Homo sapiens: one gene and its partners. The protein of the gene in region 2 interacts with the protein of the main gene of each other region in a biochemical or structural test. Each region holds a gene or a part of one and is shown on either strand. Other genes may lie near its edges.

Evidence for each region.
Region 1: the proteins of TUBG1 (region 2) and SPTAN1 form a complex in vitro, tested with the Homo sapiens proteins (one study listed by BioGRID).
Region 3: of the proteins of TUBG1 (region 2) and CUL4A, one has a biochemical effect on the other in vitro, tested with the Homo sapiens proteins (one study listed by BioGRID).

Annotation. Positions count from the first base shown.
Region 1 is NC_000009.12:128,625,587-128,629,235, reverse strand, and holds part of SPTAN1 (spectrin alpha chain, non-erythrocytic 1), read right to left. Parts: intron 3,468-3,649; coding exon 3,258-3,467; intron 2,846-3,257; coding exon 2,549-2,845; intron 2,233-2,548; coding exon of another isoform or gene 2,146-2,232; intron 1,851-2,145; coding exon 1,738-1,850; intron 1,312-1,737; coding exon 1,294-1,311; intron 112-1,293; coding exon of another isoform or gene 49-111; intron 1-48. UniProt on the Homo sapiens protein: Fodrin, which seems to be involved in secretion, interacts with calmodulin in a calcium-dependent manner and is thus candidate for the calcium-dependent movement of the cytoskeleton at the membrane.
Region 2 is NC_000017.11:42,612,683-42,615,887, reverse strand, and holds the end of TUBG1 (tubulin gamma-1 chain), read right to left. Parts: intron 2,942-3,205; coding exon 2,815-2,941; intron 2,242-2,814; coding exon 2,155-2,241; intron 2,040-2,154; coding exon 1,890-2,039; intron 1,629-1,889; coding exon 1,476-1,628; intron 1,393-1,475; coding exon 1,231-1,392; intron 1,045-1,230; coding exon 847-1,044; 3' UTR 650-846; downstream 1-649. UniProt on the Homo sapiens protein: Tubulin is the major constituent of microtubules, protein filaments consisting of alpha- and beta-tubulin heterodimers. Gamma-tubulin is a key component of the gamma-tubulin ring complex (gTuRC) which mediates microtubule nucleation.
Region 3 is NC_000013.11:113,240,539-113,244,187, forward strand, and holds part of CUL4A (cullin-4A), read left to right. Parts: intron 1-2,429; coding exon 2,430-2,622; intron 2,623-3,649. UniProt on the Homo sapiens protein: Core component of multiple cullin-RING-based E3 ubiquitin-protein ligase complexes which mediate the ubiquitination of target proteins. As a scaffold protein may contribute to catalysis through positioning of the substrate and the ubiquitin-conjugating enzyme.

The DNA of each region.
Region 1 (3,649 bases), on a different chromosome or scaffold from region 2:
GCATCAGTAAAGCCACAGTGAGGTAAGAAGAGAAATAAGGAGAAAAACCTTCCAGACAGATCATCCCCAACTTCATACTGATAGACACGAATGACCCGACGATATGCTATGCTATTCAAAGAAAAGAAACCAAATGAATACACCAAAGGGAGGGGAGGCAAGAGCACACTGCAACAGACACACACAAAGCCCAAGCTGGCAGGGCGCAGGCAAGGGCAACCTGGTGCCCGGCGGGTACCTGGAGGCAGCAGGCCCAGTGGTTCACCCCAGGCAGCTCACACTAGGAATGGGCAAGATGGGCAGGGCTTGGGAGGAGCCATAAGGTGAGGGGAGCGTGGCACCTCACGGAGACAAGAGCAAGACCAGCAGACACAGGCATGGGGCAGGGAGGGGAGTCAGGTGGCCAGGGTGTCCTACGGGCACAGGCCGGAAACTGCGATCCCTACGTCCCCAGCTGCTCTGCCATCAGAATGTGTGGCCCGGCTGGATGGGTCTATTTCTCCCCTGGCCGCCTATACAGGCTTGATGTGCCTGGGTGCAGAGCCTCAGGAGTGCAGGCCAAGCCACTCCAGTCCCAGCAGCCCTGGCTTTCACAGCAGGCTTGGCAGATTACAAAGGTGACCCGGCCAGGCAGAGGCCCCAGGCCAAGCAGAGAAGTCCCTGCCGGGACTGGGCGGGACAGCCCAGCCCTGCTCCTCCCTGGGGCTCCTCCCACGTCCTGTCTATCACATAACGGGTGCATTTTTGCCTTCTATTAGGGCGGACAGTCTTGTTACCCTCCCTGACCCCAGGAAAGTAAAGTGGCAGCCTCAGCTACTTAGGGGGTGTCAGTGCCCAGCCCTTCTCAGCTGTGGACTTACTGTACCCTGCCTGAGCCCCCAGCACTGCCATCTGCTTCATGCCCACTGACCACTGTTGGACTCGCTGGGGAAGCAGAGGTGAGAGCCCAACAGAGCCCGGTGGCTGGACAGGCACGGGGGTTCTTAGGGCCTCTGGACTCCAGCTCTGGCCTTCGTGCTTCATCACCTTCCCTACCCAAAGTGAGCCCTTGGAATCGCCCAGTGAGGCAAGGACGGCTCCCCCTGGCTTGAAGGCTCTATCGGGGACCAGGGACCATGGGCTATGGGGCAAGGCACACACTCCTCATCAGGTGACGAGAAGGGTGGGAGGGGAAGTGCAGCCCGCCCTGGGCAGGAAGGCCCATCCCGGGATCCTCCACAAGCCAGGCCACGAGGGGCAAGCGCACGAGACCCCCACATGACAAGCCCAGAGAAGGAAGAAAACAATATTAACCCATCGAGGAGGTATGTCCTGTGGAGAGCAGATCCAAGCAGCCGGGAGACAAGGTGGTGTCCGGACAACAGCAGCAATCGGGGGGACAGAGAGAAGACACAAGAAAGAAAGGAAAACAAAAGCAAGAACATCAGTACCCAACGCACAGACCCTGCATCGTCTGTCACCAAGTCATGGCTGGGGCTGACCACGCGCCCTGCATGGTCCCACTCAATCCGGGATCTCTAACAACTTGATGTCTGGGACATGCAGCACTGAGAGGCTGCTCCACCTATGCCCCCACTCCCGGCTCCAGAGCCCGACCAGGCGTTGCCAGCCCAGCTTTATTCCCAGGCTGCCTCTGGTTTTACACAAAGCACCACCACCTCCTTGGGGCTGGAAGCTCCCCAGGGCTTAAGTACAGCAGGGACATGCTGCTGCTCCCCGGCCCCAGCGGGCTGGCACCTGGTCTCTTGGATCCACTGGTGGAAGGCGTTGGCGTGCTGGGCAAACTCCTGGCGCAGCTTGTCGTTCTCCTCCTGCCGCCGCTGTTCCTTCTGCAGCTCCAGCTCCCTCTCCTGAGGGCCAAAGGGGGGCAGATGCTGTGCGCTGCTGTGGCAGTGACACCAGCCCCTCCTTCACAGATGGGCTCAGGGTGGTGGTGGCCTCCCCACAAGGAACCTCCCCAAAGATGAGAGGAGGAGGCTGGGAGACATGAGGCCGGCTCAGAGCACTTGGTAGTTCTTTCTCTGTTCCCACCCCCCAGGGGCTTCAAGGAAGAGGCGGACCTGGAGGGAAGCGACTGGTCAGTCAAGCAGGGAGTTGCTGGACTGTCAGAAATGGAAACTTCTGGCTGGGTACAGTGGCTCACACCTGTAATCCCAGCACTTTGGGAGGCCTGGGCAGGAGGACTGCTTGAGGCCAGGAGTTGAAGACCAGCCTGGGCAACATAGCAACACCCTGTCTACAAAAATTAAAATAATTAGCCAGGCGTGGTGGCACGTGCTTGTAGTCCCAGTTATTCAAGAGGCTCAGGCAAGAGGATCACCTGAGCCTGGGAGGTTGAGGCTACAGGGAGCCATGGTAGCACCACTGCACTGAAGCCTGGGTGACAGAGACCCTGCCTCAAGAACACAAAAAGAAATGAAACTTCTGATGAAACCATGCTCCTCCATCCTGCTCGTCTTGTCGTGACTCAGTTAAGTGTGGGCTCTGAGCAGGGCCCAGAGAGGGCTCTGGGAGGCCGAGCAGCTCCTGAGGGCAGCGGGAGGTGTACCTTGATGATTTTCTGTAGGTTCCTCCAGGTCTCCTCCAGGGCCTCCATGGTAAACCAGGTGTAGGGGTTGGAGGCTACGCGGAAGCTCTTGATCTGGCGGTCCAGCTCGGCCAGCTGGTTGAAGTCAGCCTGGGCAGAGCTGAGGGAGGAGCGGAAGGCGTCGTGGGCCTCGCGCAAAGCTTTGATTTCTTCCAAGGAGTTGCAGCGCACGGGGTCTGTTAAGTCCTCCTCTGCATTTTCAAACCAGCTGTTGAAGGCAGAAGCCTTTTTGGCGAAGGTCAGGAAGAGGTCCTCCACCTGGAAGCAGAAGAGACTGAGTTGGCGGAGTCGCCAGGGCTGGACGTGCCGACGCAGTGCAGGAGGTGGGGTGCGGGGTGGTTCCTGGGAATCAGAGGCGCACACAGCCTGCTGGGAGCTTAGCTCCCCTCTGCTCCTGTCTCCTGCTCCCCCTTCAAGTCTTCACCAGCCTTTTTTCCCCTTCCTACCCTTTGCCCTTGTCTCTAGTCTGTCCTGCGTGCTTCTGAATGGCGATCTCACAGGGCCCTCTCATTTGCCCTGGTTTTAATTGATGCCAGCCACACCCATGTTTGAAAGCTCTGCACTGAGCTCACAGCTTCCTCAAGGGGGAGTGGCAGAGCTGGGCAGACAGAAGGTGGGCGTCCTTCCTTGAGCTGTGGGCCAGCTAAGCTTCACGTGGCCCCATCCTCACCTTGCGGAAGTGACTCTGAGCCTCCAGAAGCTTCTTCTTGCGGGCGGCTGAGTTGGCCAGAAGCTGGCTCCACCTCTTCATGAGGGAGGCGTGCCGGGCCTCGATGGCCTTGGACTGAACGTGTTTGGCGGCGAGAAGCTGATCTTTGAGGGCAGTGATGTTGGCAATGCCTTCCTGCTGGAAGGCCTGCAGCCCAGCGTCAAAAGTTTCCTGAACAAGGAGTGACAAGCCAATTTGTGGTGACTCCACAGGACTGGAACTTGCTCTTCCTAGGCTCAGATGGCACCAGCATGTCCCCCAGATGCCCAAGCCAAACTGTCCACCTGGACACTGCTGAGACTCAGTCACACATGCCCCCTTTCCTGCTCTCCTTCAGACCGCAGATCACTGCG
Region 2 (3,205 bases):
AAAAAAAACAATCCTGAAGACTTAGGCCCCTATGTATTTACTACCTCCCTGCAATCTTCCACCAGAAGTAGAAGGCACTGGCCATTTAAATTACTGGCAACCACTAGAGAAGAGAATTACGGTGCCTTAGCTATGGAACCACTTATGATCCTGCTTACAGTCTAGGTTTTAGATTTGGTCGCTGACTTGATGCTGCTAGACTCCAACTGCCTGAAACGAGCGGCTCTCCTGGACTGCTTGCTAGAAGCTTAAAGGTATTGGGTTGGACTCCATTGCTTGTTCATGGCCTAGTGGCAGTGGTGGTGGCCTTGGGCCTCAGGTTGTGATTAATCAGACACTCTGATGTGGAAACATGAGGCTGGTGGAATATTCACCTGATACAGTGAGGGTGGGAGGGAACGGGGACCCAGAAAGGGTCAGACAGAGAACAAAGTAATATCTCTGGGCCTTTTTACCCTGGAAAGGAATTTCAGGTGGGTCAAACCCCACCAGCGTTCTCCAAAACTAGGCAGAGGAAAAACCTAGGGGAAGCTGTTGGTTCAGAATTGAAGATGCTGGAAGTGGGTGAGGACCCTGTCAGAATGATGGAGAAAGAACAGGCATCCCCACCGCATCTCCAGAACCCAAAGGCTTTAAAGGGAGCAGTGACTTGATTTATATCCAGTGCTTTATTAAAGATAAATAGTCTCATAAGAGGAGAAGTAAATGTGTTTGCAGGCCAACAGAGAGTCCATGTATATGAGAAAGAGATGCGTGAGGTCCCTGATCTGTGCTCTGAGGGGGTGGTCAGTCAGGCAGGGCTTGGGCCAACCAGTAAGGCAGATGAGGGTCCCTGTCCTGGGGGACTCACTGCTCCTGGGTGCCCCAGGAGATGTAGTCTGGCCGTGTGGCCGCATGGTACTCATCGATGAGCTGCTGCACAATCTCCCTGGATGTGTCCATCTCATCAAAGTTGTCCTTGAACATGTCCTCCTTGCGGAACTGCTCCAGGAAGGCCTCCCGCTTACGCAGCTTGTCATACTGGCGACAGGTTCTCTCGAAGAGCTTGGGGTGTGCAGAAAACAGGGGTTACAAAGAACTTCAAAGAATAACGTGGCCCAGAAAGCTGGGGAACCAAGGCTGGGCTATGCCCACAGCAAAAAAGCTAGAAGCAGGGCCAGCAGATGCAGAGAGGTGAGGTATAGTCAGGAAACTGATTCAGGGAAAAAAGGTGCAAACTTTGAGACTCACCGAGGAGATGCTGGTGTGGTTGGCCATCATGAGCCCGCTGACCCGGTGGGCCGAGGGCAGGTAGGGAGACTTCCTCGACAGGGCCACCTGGATGCTGGCGGGGCCCCACGGGATGAAGTTGGCCAACTTGCGTTCCCGGATCCTCTGCAAGCTCTTGTGGACCTGGGGTGGGCATAGGAGCAGTGGAGGTGGCCTCTCCTCTACCCCTGCAGGTCCAGGGTGTGGGATGAAGGGGCCTCCCCTACCTGGGTGGGGTCCACCTCTCCCTGGATGATGTTGAGGATGGCGATGTAGCAGTGGTTGGTCTGGCGGTCTCGGCCTGTGGACACCATCACGTTCTTGGGCTGCAGCAGCCGCCTCATGACATCCAGGACCGTGGTCTTCCTCACGCTGGCCACCTGATAGGACAGTGAGACAGGGACCCGGCCAGCGCTCAGGGCACAGTCCCCCTTTGGCTTCTCTTTGGCAGAAGCCAAAGGCAGAGGGAGGGTGGAGAGCAAGTCAGCAAGAAAGTCGCCCACTCTGTGCCAGTCCCTGAGCGCCGCGCCTTGGGGTCCACAAAGGGTAGCTCCTGGGGCAGTGGGGAAGAGAGAAAGGCTAGGACAGGGCCTGTTGGGCCCAGGGCCGGCCTGGCCTGGGACACTGAAGGCTGCTCTTACTGACTGGTCCGTAGTGAGAGGGGTGTAGCCGGTCATGAGGAAGTGGAGCCGTGGGGTGGGAATGAGCGAGGCGATGAGGCCGATGAGGTCATTGTTCATGTAGCCAGGGTAGCGCAGGGTGGTGGTGCTGGCTGACATGATGGTAGACACCTGGGGACAGGCGTGCCATGTTATGGGCCTCAGCCTGGGTGGGACCTCCCTTCCCCAAATGACCCTCCAACAAGGAGGGCTTCAAGTCCAAAGGAGTCCAGGAGTGGGGGCCCACCAGCTGGTTGATCTGGGAGAAGGATGGGTTCTGGATGTGCAGGCGGTCTGTGGCAATCCGGTTCAGGGCTGTGTTGTCCAGCACCACCTGGGGGGACAGAAGAGGATCACAGATCAATGGGGATAAGAAAAACAGGAGCTCTGCCTGACCCTAGGCTCTGAAGCTTAATTTCCTTTGAGCTTCATGGCCAGAAAGACTCACTGGAAAGAGATTTGCACTGACCTAGGGCAAAGGAGGGCTCAAAATGGATTTTTAAATTTTTCTTTTCATCTTAATTATTTAAACAGTTTTTTTTTTTGTTCTTGTTTTTTGAGACAGGGTTTCACTTTGTCACCCCGGCTGGAGTGCAGTCAGTGACATGATCTCAGCTCACTGCAGCCCCTGCCTCTGAGGCACAAGTGATCCTTCTGCACATATCACCACTCCCGACTAATTTTTGTATTTTTAGTAGAGATGGGGTTTCGCCATGTTGCCCAGGCTGGTCTCGAACTCCTAAACTCAAACGATCCAACGACCTTGGCCTCCCAAAGTGATGGGATTACAGTCATGAGCCACTGCACCTGGCTAAAATGGATTTTTTTTAAATACATGAAAATGATTTAATAGACTCGAGTGGGTATGGGGTGTTGAGAGTTGGGAGAGGTAGAATCCAGGACTCACCACACAGTCTGCATTCTGCGTCAGCCTCTTGAGTGTGAGGAGTGAATTGTAAGGCTGGACCACCACATCGCTCATCTCGTCCTGGTTGGGAAACACTGAGTATGTCTGCACCAGCTTCTTAGGATACCTGGTGGGGGTTGGGGAAAGGATCAGGGCAACAGACCGAAGGCCTGGTGAACATGGCGCTCCCTAACAACTGTCCAGAAGCAGATAAATCTTGATGGCGAAACTGGGGTGGGGTCAAATCAGTAGAGAAGGGAGCCTTGACTTTTGGAAGTCTGTAGCCCTACAGGGGGAAGGGCAGAGACATCTTAGACTCTGGGCTTCCAAATTGAGACCTGGCCACACTCCCTCGACTTTCATCCAGGGCTCAGGTTCTAGGCTCCAGTTC
Region 3 (3,649 bases), on a different chromosome or scaffold from region 2:
GTGACTATTCTTAAATCCCATAATGAAAAGATAAACAAAATTTCCAGAGAATTACACTAAGAGGAAAAAAAGAAAAGCCAATCACAGATACTTAACGTGTTATTGCATAACATTTTGGAAATGACAAAATTTAGAAATGGAGGATAGATGAAAAGTTACCAGGGTGTAGGGATGGGGCAGGGTGTGTGGTTATAAAAGGCCCCAGGAGGTAGCCTTCTGCGGGAACAGTCGGGGTTTCGGCCGAGGTCTAGATGTGCACACCCAGATGAGTTACGAGTAAACTGGGCCATGTGAAAAAGACGGGTGCGCTGCCATGTCAGTACCCCAGCTGAGACACTGTTGTGTAGTTTCGCAAACCGTTGCCATTGGAGGAAACTGTGGAAATAAAGACACTGGGATTGCTTTGCTATTTTTACTATTATGCAAATCTGTCATTATCTGAATAAAGATTTCCGTTAAATAAAAAAGATAAAGCTTACATGCTGCTTTATGGAATAATCAGACCTGAAGTCATGTATCAGTCCAGCTGTGGAAAGCCAGCACTCACAGCACCCCTCCCCACAAGGTCTCGTACAATGATAGAATTGGAACTTATAACTGAGTCACACTAAATTGGCCATAAAGCTACTGAAGATTTAGGTTTTTTGCCAGTGAGACAGTCTTCAGGGGATGGGAATGTGTGCTAAAAACTAGGAAAAGTTCACCTTTGCAGTTTCCAGTCTGGGTAATAAAAATCAGTGAGTGACCATCACCCCTGAGTGTCAGCAATAAGTAGTTATACTGTAACAAAATAGTAGTTTATATTCAACTCCACATGCCGTTATCAAAATAAAGCTGGGCCTTGTAGTGTATGTGCATTATTTCAAAATGCAGTTAGCACCAAAGGGTGTAGAGTAAGAGGTAAGTCCCTCCCACACCTGCTAGCCACACACCGCCCCTCTCTGGGAGAGTCTGTGCCCTTTCTGTTGGCATCTTTTTTTTTTTTTTTTTTTTTGAGGTGGAGTCTCACTCTGTCATCCAGGCTGGAGTGTAGTGGCGTGATCTCAGCTCACTGCAACCTCTGCCTCCTGGGTTCAAGCAGTTCCCTGCCTCAGCCTCCTGAGTAGCTGGGATTACAGGCTCCCGCCACCACACCTGGCCAATTTTTGTATTTTTAGTAGAGATGGGGTTTCACCATATTGTCCAAGCTGGTCTTGGAACTCCAGACCTTGTGATCCACCCGCCTTAGCCTCCCAAAGTGCTGGGATTACAAGCGTGAGCCACTGCGCCCAGCCTTCTCTTGGCATCTTTCCACCAGCCAGCTACCTCGCGTGTGTGTGTGATGTGTGAGTGCACATGTGCATTCTATTGAGACGAATTTTTTAAATCCAATCATTGTATTCAGTTCCTCTTCGGCATATATAGTTTATATCATCAAATGTTAACTGTTTATTAGTGCCCTACACAGACTTTTAGGAATGTTTAATATAACAGTTTTAAATTAAAAATACAAACTAGGCTAGGCACAGTGGCTCACGCTTGTAATCCCACCACTTTGGGAGGCCAAGGCAGGCAGATCATGAAGTCAAGAGATCAAGACCATCCTGGCCAACATGGTGAAACCCCGTCTCTAGCTGGGCGTGGTGGTGTGCACCTGTAGTCCCAGCTACATGGGAGGCGGAGGTTGCAGTGAGCCGAGATCACGCCACTGCACTCCAGCCTGGTGACAAAGCGAGAGTCCATCTCAAAACAAAAAAAAAAAAGTACAAACTAAAAAAGTGAGCTTTTCATGGTTAGAAGTGATGGAGAAGGAAAACTAGCCAAGAAGTCCCAAGAGGTATATTGAATTAATAGGAATTAACTTGTCTTGGAGGAACTTACACATAAACATTCTTTAAAAAGCAACGGACATTTTCCAGTCGTTTGTAAGTTCTCTCAGAAACAGAATCGTAAGACCAATGCATTAATTGTGTATTTAATTGTATATTCACACCAAGCACAGGGGCTCATGCCTGTAAACCCAGCACTTTGGGAAATCACAGTGGGAGGATTGCTTGAGGCCAGGAGTTCGAGACCAGCCTGGGCAACATGACCCCGTCTCTACAAAACTTTAAAAAGATGGGCCAGATGTGGTGGCCTGAGCCTGTAGCACCAGCTACTCAGGAGGCTGAGGTGGGAGGATTGCTTGAGCTTGGGAGGTTGAGGCTGCAGTGAACCGTGATTGCACCACCGCACTCCAGCCTCGGCCGCAGAGTGAGGGCCTGCCTCAAAAAAAAGTGTATTCACTTAATTTTTGAAATGTGAATTCAATTTGTGAAACTTTTAAAGTTATTGAGTATTTACTACTAAGAGTAATTTATGTTAAACTATCCTGATTATATGATAGCAGGAGAAGATACTGTTTGCTATTGTAAACATGTTGCTGAGTTGGTATTGATTTGCTTTTGTAGACTTTTGGAACAGCGATCGTAATCAATCCTGAGAAAGACAAAGACATGGTCCAAGACCTGTTGGACTTCAAGGACAAGGTGGACCACGTGATCGAGGTCTGCTTCCAGAAGAATGAGCGGTTCGTCAACCTGATGAAGGAGTCCTTTGAGACGTTCATCAACAAGAGACCCAACAAGCCTGCAGAACTGATCGGTAGAAAAATATTTGTTTTTTTTGTTTGTTTGTTTTTGAGACAGTCTCACCCATTTCTAGACAATTTTTTAATATGGGAAAATAAGGCAAAATCAACCAAAATGTTCAAGCTGCTCAAGGGGTGTGTGGAAAGCGTTTTTATCAAGTCTTATTAGGACACAAATTTAAAAACCGACACACCTGCATGCATGGGTGGAGGAGGGCATTTCCATAAGGGAAGATGAGGTAAGAATTTAGAAAAGAAATGATGCTTGACTTCGCCAAAGAAGGGAGGGGTGATCACCATCTTTGTATCCTCTAATCCATATTAAAATAGGATAAAACCAGATGAGATCTCAAATGATAATACTATTTTTAAGCTGTACAATTTTTTCACAATAATATCAAAATATATTTCAGAATTCATAGGCTTTCTCTAGTCAGTAAAATTTTTTTTTTAATTCGAAGGAGAAAGGGGGCAAAGAGAGCTGAAATACGACGATACTAGATTGACTGTTGATTACTGCTGAAGATGTAAGATGGAACATGGAGCTCATTGTGCAATTGTCTGCTTTTCTGTGTGTTCAGAATATTCCATTACAAAATGTTTAAAAGAAAAAAACTAACAAAAACAGCAACAGAAGGAATTCAGGAGGCAGTTTACTTTGGCTTTTGTTCCTCTGTATCATTTGTGGTTTCTCTAAAGCAAAGGGATGTTGAGCTCTTGGGAGTTTGGGCTTCTGGAAGTCTTGGGTTCTCCCATCACATGGGGACTTTGGTCCTCCCTCCCAAGCCACCTGACGATGGCTTGTGCAGCCTCAGAAACAGGAAGCCCGAGTAGAAATGCTTTCACCCTGCGTTGCCACCTTGGATGCTCTGAGAAAGTCTTTCTCTTTGAGAATGTCTCCTCTGCATTCATGACACCAGATCCTAGAAATAGGCACTCCAGCGTCCGGGGCAGTCACGTCCTGAAACCTGAGCATGTATTTGCTGAAGTCATTTTATTTTGAAATTCAGAGATTGCATTTAAAGATAAGAAAGATATTTA